Linked DNA regions of Homo sapiens: region 1 is linked to region 2. The links come from fine-mapping of genetic effects on gene expression. Tissue or cell type: monocytes after R848. Region 2 holds a variant in brackets; the other region holds the start of a gene. All regions are shown on one strand. Distances are between the middles of the regions.

Region 1 (8,108 bases), 210 kb before region 2:
AGTCCCTCAGTAGGTAAACGGATAAACAAACTGTGGCACATCCATATAATAGAATATTATTCAATAATAAAAGCAATATCAGCCAACAAGAAGACATGAAGGAACTTTAAATGCATATTGCTGGGTGAAAGAAGCCAATCTGAAAAGCCTATACATTGTATGATTTCAACTGTATAGCATTCTGGAAAAGACAAAACTTGGAGACCATAGAAAGATCAGTGGTTGCCAGGAGCTTGGGGAAAGACAGAAAGGAATAGGTGGGAAAGAACATTTATAGGGCAGTAAAACTATTCAATATGATACTGTAATGATATACACATTTCATTATATATTTGTCAAAACCCATGGAATATACAAAAGGAATGAACCCCAATGTAAACTATGGACTTTAATAATAATGCATCAATATTTGTTCCATCACTTGTAACACATGTACCATACTGATGAAAGATGTTAAGAGCAGGGGAAAGTGCTAAGAGGTGGGTATATAGGAACTCTGTGCTTTTTACTCAATTTTTCTATAAACCTAAAATTTCTACAATATAGAAAGTCTATTAGTTTAAGAAAAGAATTATGTATTAAGAAATGAATGCAAGAAAGCTGATAGCACAGTCAAGGGACAGGCTGAAATGTGTGATGGATGGAAGGAGAGTAATGAATAATGAAACTGAAAAAGTAAGATACTGAAAAATTTCCTACGCCACATTATGGTATCTGAATCTTAAGATACACTAAGTTCTCTAGTTATGTGGTCAGATTTGTCCTTTAGGAAAATAATATTCTCATAAATAAGGAATGGAGTAAAAAGAGCTTAGAGGAAGTAAGACAAGGGAAGATACTATTGCACCAATCCAAATAGGAGGTGATAGTTTAAGGATTAAAGCTCAGAGTCCCAACACTATTTAATGACTTGAACTTCTTGAACTCAAGAAAAAAATTGACCATCTCCGTGGTAGCCAGAGAGAAAAACATTGCCATATGAGATTCAATAAAAGTTACAGCTATATGTAACACTGCAATGTCCTTCCCTTCAATAAATCATGGAAACCAGAATTGATTTTTTAATGATAATGGGCAGTTCAGCTGGAAATCAGAGGAGTGAATTATACAGACTTCTACAGATAATATTCTAGGTGGATAGGAAACTGATACATTTGATGTTACCATTAGCTTGTCTCTCTAAAGTTCCTTTAGAAAATAATTGAATATATAAATCCCTGATTCTTCTCCCTGAAGCAAACCACACAGAGTTGTTGTCCTTGTGAGAAACAGCTCACTTTCACATTAATGCCACAATTAAAAGCATCTGTCCATCCAACCTTGTGACTGTTGACCCGGGGCTCAGTTTGGAATCTACTGCTTGTTTTCTCTGTCCACAGCATCCTGGCTGGAGAAAAACTTTCTCTTGACAGGAAATCATATGACCTTGTTGTACCAAAGTTGCAGCTACTCTGGAGGTTGGTTATCTCTTTAAAGTGCCTCCCTCCCACCCCCCCAGCAGAATGTTCGCGGTGAATTTTATGAATGCCACTATCCTATATTTGACTGCCAAATTCAGCTATTTGGGGGGCTACATTAACAGATAAACAAGCAAACACACAGAAATGTAGGTCTGTAAGTCTAGGTCAGAAGATTATAGCTGACAGAATTTTTGAGTGGTGGCAAGAAGAAAGACGATGAGGATTTGAAAGTTTATACTGTGGCAACTGGGTAAAAGGTAATGTCATTGACCAAAATGAGGAGCAGATTTGAGGGATAGGACAGTGAGTTTAATTTTGGATATACTCAGTTTGAAGCACCAGTGGAAACTTTAAGTAGAGAAGTTTAGTGAGCAGTAAGAAATGAGGGACAAGAAAAGCTAAAGAAAGAGGAAAGCTGAAAATATTAAGCAGTTATTGATACATAAATAGAGGCTGAAGTTGATGAATTGGAGGCAAGTGCCCAGGATATTAGCGATGAGGAGAGGAGAGTGTCTAGGTCTATATGAGGTTGGAAAGAAAACTGTAAGATATGGTAAGAAGGTACTGCTTTGGTTAAAGTGAGAGAGGATGTGAAGAGATTAATATTAGAAGAGGGTGAGTAGGAGGAACACTGCAGGATAGCATCTCTAATGTAGTAATTAAATGGATGTGCATGGGAGGGCAATCAAAATGATTTCAATGTTTTGATCTTAGGAGGCTTGAAGGAAAGTATTACTATCTACTCTTCATTCATTCAGTCATTCAAAAAGAACACATAGGGCACCGTGTATGGGCTAGACACTGTGGCACTGACAGAAGTCAGGAGAATGAGCATGCTTTGAAAAGACAGTAATGAGTCTGGATTTACATATATTGAGTTTGAGATGCTTGTGGGTCATCATGATGCAAATGTCTAGCAGGTAGAAGCAAAAAAGAAAACTCAAGGGAAGAGATTGCTCCATAGAAGACTTGAAGTACCATTTGTAGATGAGATCACTAAGGGAGGTAAGAAAGGAATGTCTCTATTGTTACCTATGAACATATAGGTAATATCTGTGGATATTATTTGTGGGAGAAGAGGAGGAGAAGCAAACCACAAAGGAGAAGGAACACGTGTACCAATAAGAGATTTAGGAGAAGCATCAGAAAGGCCATGCAGATAAGATCCTTAAGAGGTGAGCAGGCTGTACCTCACATCCCACAGGCCTGTCACAGCAAATGAGATCAGAGAGAAAAGTGCTGAATCTGATTTGTCAAAGAGTGGGGATAGACACTCAACTACAAGGGACCATGGAAAGAGCTGACACTAAGAGTAGAGCCTGCAAGACGATATCATGATTCATGTGAGGGATTTTTAAAATAATGAAAATTTGAAAATGTCTGTAGCTCCAGGATAATGAAGCACAGGAGATATGAAAAACGAAAACATGGGAGAAGAAGAGATAATTCATAGGAAAAATAGCCTAGAGGAAGCAAGACAATAAGGGATCACAGGACTTGGGCAACAGCCAGGCAACATATGCCTTCACTGTGAGGTGAATTCTCATTAGCCTCACTTGTAATGACTTCATAGAACTGGAGTTAAGGATTTCACGTAAAAGAGAAAGATCCCTGGGCATCATCTTTTCAGGTCGTTTATTCTTAGTCATACAGCGTTCCAACGGAGAGGATGCACTCTAATTCTCCATAGAGAATTCTCTACCATATTAGCTCATACCCTCCTGTGCAAAACTAAACAGGAGTACTGAAAACAGCTAGTGTATGTTATGTGGGATGATCGCCTTCTTCATGAGTTAAATAGAAACTTGCAAAGAAAAGAGACAATTTCTAAGAAACTCTAAATATGGGGGTGTGGTGGGGTGGGGGCAGGTGTATGTTGCTCTCTTCCTTAAAAAAAAAAAAAAAAAGAAGGAGAAGAAGAAGAAGGAAAAAGCCCCTGGGAACTTGGGGAACAAGATGAAGATCAGGAAATCAAGGCATTTGTCCCAGCGTCACCCTTCCTACCTACTAATTCTGCATGCGTTGCTTTTATTGTCAGCTCTGGCCTCAGCTGCTTCGTAGTTGCACCGTAGTTCTTCTCAGAACTGAACCTATTTCTTTTTTTCTCATCCCCAAAGTGGCTGGTTTCTGGGCTTTGTTTGCTCTTGTTTCTTCATCACCGAGAAATACAGAAATATGAAAGCGCCTCACGGTGCCCAGAGTGACAAAAGGACACCCACACAAGTTTACCAGGACTCCTAAAAGTCCTTGCCTGAGGACTGTCCCCTAGCAACTACCCAGAGCTCGACGAAGCAAAGCCGGGAGCGCAAGCCCTGACAGCACCGCCAAGCCCCTAGCTCGGAGCAACAGCCTCCACCGCTTCTCCTCGCTAAACCTAGAGAACCCTGAGGACTCCCCACTGGGGCTGAGCCCCTCCCGCCCTCAACAGAACCTCTAAACACAAGTAGCCTTTCCCTGCCTCCAGGAGCTCACGAAACGCTGCCACACCGAGCGAATGCAACGCGTACACACGTCCACACTCGAACAGCACAAGCAAGAGACCGGCTGGGTGTGGAATAGAGGCGCACATCGCGCAACGCATTCACAGCATGCACACGCGCGCACCCCGACCCCGTCCCTCCCCGCGCGCCCTCACACCCCGGCGCCCAAGACCCCCGGCCCACGAACCTCACCAGACAGCCGGGTAACTTTCCAGGTGCGCAGCTTGTCACCTCGGCGCGGCCGCCCCTGCGTCTCAGCGTCCTCTCCCACGCCGCCCTCCCCAGCCGCCTGCGGCGCCGGAGCCCAGCGCAGGTCAGCTCAGCCAGCCCCGCCGTGCACACGGTGCGCAGCGTGGGCCCGGGGCTGCCGGCTCAGTCGCTCCGGCTACGTGTGAGCCGGGGGCGCGGGTTAGCGCGATGCGGGCAGGAGCTGCGGCGGCGTCGGTGCTGCCGCCTGGCTCCGCGGCGGGGGCCGGTGCAGAGGAGACACGCAGGGAGGGAGGGAAGAGAGGAGGGAAGGAGGAGGGAGGGGGTCAGCCGGGGCTACTGCCTGGATAGTTGGGCGCCGGCTTCCCTAAAGGTGGGGTCACCCGCGCCCGCACGCACACTAGCCCGAACCTTTACTCCCGACACAGCCGCAGTCTGCACTTTATACCCCATACCCTCCATAGTGAGGCAACTTAAGTAGGGCGATAACATCGTGGTTGTAAGCATTTTTGTTCATGTTATTATTTCTATTTCAAGTGTGTGGGACGAGGGGAGAGGAAAGTTCAGGGAGGTGTTCATTTTTTCCTTCCCCTCCCTTTCCTCCATCCTTCCAGTCTGTTTTCACTGCAGGCTCTCTCCACTTCGCCTTCCCTCCCAGAGCTCAAACAGGCGCACGTACCCTGGACATGCCCTCCTCTGTCACACCAATGCCTTTCTACGAAGACATGTGACCCCGAAGCAGCTCGTCGACGCGCCCCTCCCGGACTCTGGGGCCATAACTTACATCTAGTTTGCCAGTTCACGTGATGCTGGGGGCAGGGGTTGAATCGAGTTTCGAGGGACAGAGATTATACCTTCCGAATCTGCAGGTCTTTGGGAAGGGAGCTTTCTTGATCACCCAAGAAGATAATGCTCTCTCGTCACCTTTTGAGTACATTTTTTTTTCCTGAAGGGTGCAATATGGTTTCCTAAATATATATGTACACCCCACCGCATTATTTGCTGTGCTCTGGAGTTGTGAGATCTCCATGTGGCTTTTTCCCTTTCCTTCTGCCCCCAGAGGAATTTCACCAGCAAATTCACGGAGGACAAGGGCAGTTTCTGTGTTGAGAGATGGAAAGTATAGTGAGGGTCTATTCCTCACTGTGCATCTAGAGAATGTTACAACCAACTCTCTTGGGTTTTTAAACCACATGGTGGCAGTGGGGCTCATGTAACATTTGTATACACTGTTACATACATAAACTTATATTAAAAATGAGGCCCATGTAAAATATGTTGAATGAGACCATTAAGTTTCAGAGGAGGAGGAATATAGTCCTGTTTGTTTTTGTGCTAACTGGAGGAAAATCGCGAAAGTACACAAAGTACCTTTTCATGAAGCTATCCCAGAGTCTGTACATTTTATAAAGACCTCAAAAAAAAAAAAATTAGAGGAGAAAGGAGTGAGGAAGAATTCCACAAGAAAAGAGAAAATAAGTAATTGTATGTCACTGTAATAATGGACTTTTAAGTTGATGGGCTGAATTTTTATTAGCGATTTAATGACAAAAAGGAGAAAAACAGATTTTCAAAGTCTTCACTTTAAAAAAAAATTTCAGATTCAGGGGTACAAGTGCAGTCGCATTACACGGACATAACACATAGTGGTGAGGTCTGGGCTTTTAGCGCACCTATTACCCTAATAATGTGCACTGTACCTAATAAGTTGTAATTCCTACCTCACCCACCTCCCACCCTCCCACCTATTGGAGTCCCCAGTGTCTGTTATTCCATTCTGGATACTCATGCCTGCCCATTGTTTAGCTGCCACTTATAAGAGATTCTGCAGTTTTTGACTTTGTTTCTGAGTAATTTCACTTAGGATAATGGCCTCTAGTTCCATCCATGTTGCTGCAAAAGATATGATTTCATTGTTTTTGTGGCTGGGTAGTATTCCATTGTGTGTGTGTGTGTGTGTGTGTGTGTGTGTGTGTGTGTGTAGTACCCCTGAATCAAAAAAAAATTTTCCCAGTTTTTCAGGTGATAGGTACACAGTGTATGTGTGTGTATACCACCATAGTGTGTGTGTATATATTTTGTATATATATATATATATATATATGTGTATATATATAATATAAAACCACATTTATAAATCCAATCACCCCTTAATGGACACGTAGGTTGACTCCATGATTTTGCTATTGTGAATAATGCTGCAAAGTCCTTACATTTCATTGAGTCCTGGGCTTTTTTAAACAATGGGTTGCTAATTAATGGATTATAAAATTGATGTACTGGGTCAAAGCCAGCATTTTTAAAATGATACCAAATAGAATAAAAAATAGCAGAGTATGCACGCACACTGGGTCAACTGGGTCATATGTACTTTCTTACCGTTCATTGAGGTAAAAGCTTGAAAGCTGTCGATGCAGTGCAGGCTGTTGCCCAGGGTCACCCAGCTAGGAAGAGTTTGAGGGGGAACCTAAGTTCCCTCCCAGCAATCCTATGCTCTGTCAAATCTACAACTCTACCATGCTGAACAAGGAAACGGAGGAAGAGAAGGAAAGTGACCACTTTTTGAGCTTTTAATTCAGTCTTTCAACAAATGTGCTTTCAGCAGCTCCTGCATCTCAGGCCCAGTGCTAAATACTTAGAATTCAATGGTGAACAAAATTAACTTGTGATCTCTGCCAACTTAGAGTGTACAATCCAGTGAGAGAAACAGACATTAAATAAGTAAACACAAAAGTAAGCATATGTGGGAGAAATACTGTGAAGGAAAATGAGAGAAAAAAATATGGGGTTATAATTTAGATGTGGGAGGCTGCAATTAATAATTAACCCAATTTAGAATGGCTTAAATTATAAGGAAACTTACTGTTTCACAAGGCAAGAAGTTCCAAGGTCAGGAGGCTCTAGTTGGTGAATTCAGGAACACAGTTGTGTCTGGGAAGGCCCTGGCCTGTTCCCGTTATTCCCCCTGCCATTCCCAGTATGGCAGCTTTGTCCCCTGGGGCTGCTCCACCCATGGCCCCAGGATGACTGGAACAACTCCATTTATTATGGGCAATCCCAACAGTGCCCAAAGGTCACAGAGATTCTCTTTTCCAGAGTCGGGAAATCGTTCTTGGAAGCTTCCAGGAGACTTCTCACCTGTCATTAATCCAAACTAAGCATGTGCTCACACCTAAATGCTGGAGGTGGAGGGGAGAATCACCATTCCCAGCCTCTTAGGCTCTGCAGGACTGGTTCCTAACTCTTCCCGATTGCATTCTTTGAGAAGTGCATACCCGAATAAAAAGGAGAGGGTGGCAATGGATGCTGGGTAGGCAATCTAGAGTCTGCTACAGGGGCTCAAGAATAATGTCTCTCTGGAAAAAAAAAAAGTGGAGGGCATTTAAACTTAAGATGAGTAAGAGTGAGACAGGGAGTGAGGAGGAAGCACCTTCAGGCTGAAGGAATCTGGCCTGTGATGTTGGACTCTGTGTCATGAGTTAAAGGCTTCCATGTAATTTCTCATTTACTCCTTTGACCTGAGGAGGTAAGCACACCTGAGGAAGGAAACTCAGAGAGTTAAGTAACTTTGATCAAATTCACAGAGCTAATAAGTTGCAGAGCCAGTCTATATAATTCCAGACCCTAAAATCTTGACTTCTTCTACCTGTACAAAGACAACGAGAAATTAAAATCCACTGGCCTTTCTTTGCCATTGACTGAAGAACACAGGCCCCTCAGAGGCCCGTCTGCAATGTTAATCTAAGCACATGGGCGATGTGGGACATACTCATGACTAATCCTCCTCCTACTAGGTAAGCCTCTGCTCCACTAGGTCTCCTGGTCTCTGCTAAGCACTGTCACCAGAGCACCAGAGTTCTCACATTGTCAAAGTTCAGAGGTAGCCTATGGAAATGGGGATGATAAAAGGCCTGTCTTCCCTTGTTTTATACACAGAAAAGTCCCCAAGCAGCCCAAGTGT
Region 2 (8,108 bases):
ACTACATATAAACACAGAAGAGTATAACAGTCTAGTTAATACTCAAAATTTTTTAAAAACCCTCAGTGGCTTGGATTTCCTTTGTTGATTTCTGGGAATAGTGCCACCCATGACAATGGATTGGAATCACTTTTCAAAATCCAGATGTTTCAGGGGCACAATTTGAGATTTGTTACAAGATATAAAGTGAAATTTGTGAATCCCCAATGATAACCAGATTAATAACTGCCTTGCTCATGCATTCAGCACATATTTACTGAGCATACATTAACTCCTCACCACAGCTCACCTGCACTTAGGAGGACCCCTAATTGCACCACAGAAAATTTAATAATGCCAGTCCTCCAACTGCCTTATCTCAACCAAGTTGACAGCACATTCTGCTAAACTTACTTTCCCACAACGATTCATCTGGAGAAAGGTGATTTTTGCTAACTTTCATTTTCTCCAAGCAGTGTGGGTGGAAAGAAAGCAAGCAAACTTTGTTTCATTGTAGAAAACCCACTGGTTTGACATCCATCAAGGAGTAATTTTCCTTTTTATTCTCAGAAACATCAGTTTCCTTTTTTTTTTTTTTTTTTGGAGACAGGGTCACACTCTGTCACCCTAGCTGGAGTGCAGTGGTGCAATCTTGGCTCACTGCAACCTCCGCTTCCCAGGTTCAAGCGATTCCCTGCCTCAGCCTCCAAAGTAGCTGGGATTACAGGCACAGGCCACCACACCTGGCTAATTATTTGTTGTATTTTTAGTAGAGATGGCGTTTCTCCATGTTGGCCAAGCTGGTCTCAAACTCCTGACCTCAAGTGATCTGCCCACCTCGGCCTCCCAAAGTGCTGGGATTATAGGTGTGAGCCGCTGTGCCCGGCCCCTTCCTCCTCTTTAATTTTCTAAAGTATAGGCTACTATTACCAAGAAATCCTAAATTGGGTGATGTGCACACTTTAAGTATTCTAATAGTTAACAATATTCCAAGACAGCTTCTTCATACTGTCCAGAATGCGATTATACACATTTGGATGTTTAATCTCCTGTTATGTAGAATCTTAGAGAAGCAGGGTTTCAGGCTTGCAGGGCAGAGTTTAAGCTTGCTGAAGGCTGGTAGCACTATAAAGAAAATTGGCTACCTGGAAATTTCCTCATTGCATAAAGGTTATAAATGCATCCTTTAAGAGGGACTGATTCTTAGTACAGCATAAAGGCAGTAGTCTATTTTGCATGGGATCAGCCTTGTTTGCAGTTTTGAATGACAGGTCCACAAACTGAAAAGTTTGGTTAATAAACCGTGAATCCCAACATCTCTTTATTAGCACTAAGAAGAGTCAAGTGATCTCAATTACATGGAACAGAGAATTGAGGCAATTATCCAATCATTCAAACCCAGAAAAAAAAAAATCTTTGGCTTGAATTATACAGAAAGTGCCTCAATTTCCTATTAAAACTTTAGAAGCCCAACTCTGACAAAAGTCTTTCCTTTCAAGATGTCTTAGGGGTAAAGCGAACAGAGTCGCCATCAGAGTATTGAGTTTTATAAGTTGTTAGTAGTTTCCAGGTCACTAACCACATTTTTTCCCCCAGGAAATGAATTCAGGAATTTCTTTGAACACTTAGCTCCATTGGAACAGTAGTCTAAGCTTCTTTTTATTCCCAGGCATGCATTCTTTATTGGAATAGTAAGACACCTTTGGAACAGGGGCAGGTATTGTTTTTTGTTCGGAAAAAGGGGTAAACAAATGGCACCAAAGGAAGGTAGAGGATGTTAATCTACAGCTCAAAGTTCTTATATAGTTTAGCAACTAAAATTCTAATGGTGGGTTATGTTTTCTTGGGATTCTATACACAGGTGGCATGTGGACAGCAGTTGGAAAGAGAAAGTACAGAAAGAAGTTAAAAGTATGCTAGAAAAAACAGTAAATGAAGAAATGACAGAGGTGCCAAAGCCAGGTGAAGTGAAGAGGTAAAGCAATAAACCCTTCAAAGACAAAGACAATCAGCGTTCAATTCTCTTGTCTTTGTTAGATGAAAGGTAGGCCACTCCTGTGTCCTCAAAATGGAGGGACATTTCAAGTACTAGAAGGTGCACTCTCCTGGTACCTTCCTAAGCCCAACCAGTTCTGAACCCTGCCCCCCACCTTCCCAGCAGTCCCAGCTCCAAGCCTGCAGCTTTGAAATGCAGGCCTTTGGAATGAACGGCAGGCCTGGACAGAACACATCCTGGAATCGCAGTCTATCGACTGGCATTGCCTGATGTTGTTTATGCTTGTATTTACCCAGGCTTCCATCCAGCCACATAAATTATAAATTCATCTATACACCCACTGGGGAATCCAACGCACACACGGCACAAAAGGGAGAATATGAAATATTTTCACAGGTAAATTAATACAGGATTTAAAGCTCTGGCTTACCTAGACATTAAAATGAGTAGAGGATGTAACTCTTGCTGTAAAAACTTCTTGTTTAAGTAGCCCTAGAATCACTTTTTTTTAGGCCTAATACCACTTTAGGAAATTTTTTTCAGCTGCTACATTTAGGTATCTAATGCCATCATAGAGCTCTCATAGCATTTTTGCAAACTATCTTTGCAATGCTTAAAAGAAACACTGAGATCAGGGGTCAGTAAAGTTTCCATCGAGTCCCATAAAGTAAATATTTGAGGCTTTATGGGCCATACAGTCTGTTTAGTATAAGACGCTGCAGCTGTAGCAGAAAACAGCCACAAGAAGATATATAAATAAATGTGTGGCCATGTTCCAATAGAACTTTACTTAAGGACACTGAAATTTGAATTTCAGATAATTTTCACATCATGAGATCTTCTTTTTTTTTTTCTAGCATTGTTACCTTGTGGGCCATACAAAACAAGCAGCTGGCTAGATCTGGCCATCAGCCCATAGTTTGCTGACCCCTGGTGTAGATGGTTGAAAGATGAATCTTGTTGCTGTCACAATAACCAAAGTGGTAGAGGGATCAGGGAAAGGCAGTGCAAGGAAAAAGGAGGCAATATTGTGAAGTTGCATTCATCACGGTTTTTTTTCTGTATCTTATGATGTTCTGGTATCTTATAAATTTTGCTGGCAGGGAAGAGACTCCCAGGACTAGCTAATTCTTGGAGACAGCAAAGGACTGAGCCCTGAGCATATCTAACTATTGTCAAGAACATAGCCGCAACCTTCCCCTTTATCTAACTTTCACACACCAAGCCAATATAGAAATTGCCCTAACTCACCCCAGGGGCTAGGTACCAAGCAAATGGAGACCGCCCCTCCAGCCCAGAGCCTGCTGGAATTATTCAGACTTGCCAATTGGAAACTGTTGGCCTTGCTCTGCCTTGCCTCCCTGCAGAAACCTCAGTCAAAGCCTATGCTTTCTTCTTGCTCCTGCTTCTGCCCCCGACCGACACCGGTGCTTCCCCTGTGGCCCTGCATGGCATGGCATGTGCCCTTTCTCTGGGGAAATTGAATAATATAAAGCTTTCAGTGGCACTGGCCTCTGTGTGTCATCACTCAGCTACCCCCATAAATTAAAATCTCAACAGGTATCATGAGGCAGAAGTGTCTTCCTACTCTGAGCGGGATCCCAGGACCAGCAGCATCAGCATTCCCTGAGCCTCATCCCAGACCGACAGAATCTGCATCTGCATGTAAAAAAGATTCCCGGGT[A/T]ATTTGCAAGGATATTGAAGTTTGAGATGCTGTGGTGGTGTGGTTTAAAGCTTGAGGTCTGGAATTAGAAGGCCCATTTCAAGTATCTGTGCCTCTCATTAGCTATGTGGCCTTGTACAAGTTATTATTATTTCCACCCCTAATAGGTAGAGATGAATCTATGCTAAACACTTAGAAAATGCCTGGCAAATAATACTATCATTCTTTTTTAAAAAATAAATGCCCATGCACAAACTGTTAAGATAACTTCCTCAGATACATTCTTAGCCAGTCTCTTGAACTGATCCACTGTGATTATAGCCCATGCCCGCCCCCAACAATTCCACCCATAAAAGAAAAGAAAGACGCCACAACTCCTGGCCGCAGAGTGTAAAATATATTGATGGCTGTAAAGGGACAACTTGGGGATATTTTAGGTCTGCTGAGATGATGCACAGCATACATACATGCTCTAGTTTTTGGAACCATGTCATTAAGTTTTCAAATACATCTGTTTTGAACATGGTATTTTGTTTTTCTCATTAGCACGAATTACTACTCTACAGTTTCTTCTAGAGTAAATAAATATAATGGCTGTTTGCAGAGCGACTACAGACTTACTTAGATGTTTAACAAGGTGAACGATTTCACAATTAGATCAACCATTGAGTTAACAGCAAGGTGTTTTTCATCTGTTTTGTTTACTGCTATAGTGGGGACAGGTAACTTCTCCAATTTATTCTTTGTTGACATCTTTAGTTACCAACAGACTCCCAAAAGTAATGAAAAGTCGATTAAAAAGAAAATTGTAATTATGCCATGGGTTTTCCCAAGATCCTTAAAGTCAGCTCATTTAAATTTACAAGAGAAAAATAACAGGCATCATGGAAAACTAAGTAACAAAAAGCTATTGAAAAATACATCTGTGGAACACAGTGGTCAGTTGTAAACAGCTCAGAAGAGCAAAAAAAAAAAAAAAAAAAAAAAAAAAAAGTCCTTCTAGCATGTTAAGCAGTCCAATGACAAACTCTGCTTTTTATTTTCTTTCTAGTGGCTATTTTCCTACCACAGTGTTGAGCTTCATTATTATATTAAATAACTTATATGGGTAAAAAGGAGTTTGCTAACCAGCAGCCAACTCAAAACCTTGTAGGAGGAGGGAGGAGAAAAATTTACAACACAGCACATACTAAGGGGAAACAAAGTCTGCAGTCAGCTTCCAACCAGTCTTACCCCTCTCTGGCAATACTGATTGAGCTAAGGTTTGGGATCTAAACGGGGGGGTTTTAGATCCCCTCCCTCCACTCCTTTCTTCATTTAAGTTAACAAAAGAAACGTGGGCTTCCTCAGAGCCAGCACTCAGCTGGGCAAGTCCCATTAGCAGCAAATGTTCAACCAAATTAAAAAAAACACACACACACAAAAGAAAACTCCATCCAGGTGCAGAGCTGTGATTCACATGGAAATTCCAGGAGATGAATAATGTGCAGAGCCGGGATTTTTAGAGGATTCTTTCTCAAGTGTCTTCAGTGAACATTTCAGTCTCACAAAATCTGAGTCTATCTGTCAGCTGCAGGAAATAAGTTCTCCATCTGGTCTTGAGTGAGCTTGTGTGCTTTGCTGACCCGGGTGCTCCAATGACTGCAGGGTCTTCATGAGTGTTCGTGGTACGAGATGCCAGAAAACAAAGGCCAGCCCCTCCATGATCTGCAGGAAGCAGCAGCAGCAGCAGGCAGGCAGCTCCCATGTGTTAAACTCTGCCTAAGAGGCTCGACCTGAGTAATAAAAACAACACAACCTAAGACAGAATGTAACAGACTACTTGAACTAGGATGAAAATGCCTTGTGTAATACTAATTTTATCTTTCCTGTGTTTTAAGTTTGATTTTACAAAGTTAAACCAGGAAAAAAAAAATCAAGCTTTTAAGTCCTATTGGCTCTCTGGGAAAACTGCCAGTCACTTAAAAAACAAACATTTATTAATGGAGATGGCAAAAGCTTAAACAGATAAATCTATATCTTGCGTAGGTTTATATTATAACAAAAACAAAAAAAGCAAAGATCATTAATGATAAAGAGCTTTTAGGTACAGGTTATCACAGATAGATTTACTTGGTAGATATAAGCATCTTCACAACACATTCCATGAACACTGGGAGAGTTTAAACAATAGTTGACAATAAGGGTGTCTGCCGTCAGAGGTGTATCTGCCACTGATGAATCTACGTGTCTGCAATGAATGGCTCTAGGGCCACCAAGAAAAGCATCTATGTAAAAATATCTTACTGCCTTCAAAGCTAATGTATAAAAGTTTTCAGGTAGGTACAATGATTCCAGAATATAGTCAGCCCTCTCTATCTGTGGGTTTTGCACCTGTGGATTCAATCAACTGCAGATCAAAAATATTTGAAACAAAAAATATGGGTCTGTACTGAATATATACAGACTCTTTTTCTTGCCATTGTTCCCTAAGTAATATGGTATAACAACTATGTATATAGCATTTACATTATATTAGATATTGAAATTAATCTAGAGATGATTTATGGTACAACAACTATTTACATAGCATTTACATTATATTAGGTATTATAAGTAATCTAGAGATGACTTAAAGTATAAGAGAGGATGCATATGGCTATATTCAAGTATTATCTATTTATTATTTTGAGTTTACCCTAACAGGTTATGTGTTATTGAATCAGTAAGACTGATGGCCACAAGAAAAGAATATTTCTGAAAACAACAGCAACAGAAAGTTTCATTTTATTATACCAGGGACTAGAGCATCCTCAGATTTTGGTATCTGCAGGAGGTCCTGGAACCAATCCCCCATAAATACCAAGGGATGATTATGCTTAATCTTAGTATCCACTTAACGTATGTATTTTGTAAATTATAATAGCCTGTTTTATTTTGTTTTAACTTCTTCGTGGTTGCTATGCCTTGGCCAACACCTGCGATAACCCAGTACCATTCAATGACACTACAGGAGCATGGGCTGACGAGTAATAGAGAGCAAGACACTGTGTCCAGAGCTGGGGCAGACATTAGGGGAAGACCCTGTGCTTGCCCTCAAGGGGCTTACATAGCAATAGAGAAAACCACAAACACTACACAAAACCACATGGCTGGTAACGAGAGAGGAAGAGTGCCTCCTGAGTGTATGAGTTCTGGAGAAATTCTTTCTAGGGAAAAACGGGCCAGGGACGGGGGAGGCATTGGAGCTGGGCCATGAGAACAGACAGGATATGGAAAAGGCAGAGTGTGTGGCTTGAACACCAACACAGATGAGAGCTGTTCTTCAAAGCTCCTTAAAAAACAATTTTAACGTGGAAACTGTCTTTTATACCAAAGAATATAATTTTCATTTCAACCAATTGATACGGGAGTGCTGGGAGGGGAAGAGCACGGTCCCTTTAAATGATACGGAATGGGGAAGGGAAGTGCTGGGTAGAGAAAGGCAGGTCCCTGGCTAGGGCTCAACCCCCACGGACCTAGGTGAGGACAGACATTTCCTGCCCAAATGTTGCATTTCCCAAGACCACCCTGGCCCACCACGCCCCCATCTTGGGCCTATAAAAACCCGAGACCGCCGGCAGACAGACACACAAGTAGCTGGACGTGGTGAGGAACACATCTGCTGAAGAAGACGCAAGTGGCGAGTCGTCGAGAGGACATTGAGGGGAGCACACTGGTAGAAGGGCACGCCGGCAGGGCACACCGAAAGATGCCAGCACGCAGGACAGACTGGCGGGATGAGGCGGAGTTTGGCAGGGGCAGTCTGAGGAGCGGCTGGTCGTCGAGAGGACACTGAGGGGAGCACGCTGGCAGATGGGCACACCGACATACGCCAGCACACTGGCAGGCCACTTACTGGCGGGACGAGGCGAAGTTTGGCAGGCGCAGTCGGAGGAGAGCCTGGGCCACTGAGTGGCCCCACTCCAGTGTAAAAACATCTCCCTTTGGGCTCCCCCATAGGCGGAGAGCTACTTCCACTCAATAAAACTTTGCACTCTCACGCCTGTAATCCCAGCACTTTGAGAGGCTGAGGCGGGCGGATCACGAGGTCAGGAGATCGAGACTATCCTGGCTAACATGGTGAAACCCCGTCTGTACTAAAGATACAAAAAATTAGCCGGGCGTGGTGGCGGGCGCCTGTAGTCCCAGCTGCTTGGGAGGCTGAAGCAGGAGAATGGCGTGAACCCGGGAGGCGGAGCCTGCAGTGAGCCGAGATCCTCCCACTGCACTCCAGCCTGGGCGACAGAGAGAGACTTCGTCTCAAACAAACAAACAAACAAAAAGCTTTGCACTCATTTTCCAAGCCTATGTGCGACCCGATTCTTCCAGTACACCGAGGCAAGAATGCTGAGATACAGAAAGCCCTCTGTCCTTGCCATAAGGTAGAGGGTCTAATTGAGCCGGTTAACGCAAGCCACCTATAGATGGCAAAATAAGGGAGCGCCTTGT

Direction of the effects. Positions count from the first base shown, and alleles are read on the strand shown. Sizes are in standard deviations (SD) of each study's normalised expression.
As copies of T replace A in region 2, the expression in monocytes after R848 of the gene that starts at base 4,419 in region 1 goes up (moderate effect, 0.63 SD a copy in Quach 2016).

Evidence for each region. PIP is the estimated chance that this variant, and not a neighbour inherited with it, causes the effect.
Region 1: it holds the start of PRKG2, and the variant in region 2 is fine-mapped to the expression of PRKG2 in monocytes after R848 (Quach 2016, PIP 0.95).

The regions. Positions count from the first base shown.
Region 1 is chr4:81,210,804-81,218,911 of GRCh38, forward strand. PRKG2 (protein kinase cGMP-dependent 2) reads right to left here and starts at 4,419. Exons shown (of 19, transcript NM_006259.3): 1 at 4,133-4,419. It overlaps LOC124900726 (a long non-coding RNA gene), which reads left to right and starts at 4,083. Exons shown (of 2, transcript XR_007058162.1): 1 at 4,083-4,155; 2 at 4,762-5,421. RefSeq lists enhancers at 3,451-3,951, 3,952-4,452.
Region 2 is chr4:81,422,380-81,430,487 of GRCh38, forward strand. It overlaps RASGEF1B (RasGEF domain family member 1B), which reads right to left. Exons shown (of 14, transcript NM_152545.3): 14 at 4,014-5,413. The coding sequence ends at 5,389. Among named protein-coding and RNA genes, the nearest start is that of RASGEF1B, 45 kb to the right of the region's middle. RefSeq lists an enhancer at 4,796-5,380 and a silencer at 5,156-5,450. The variant A/T (reference allele first, on the strand shown) is at 3,660.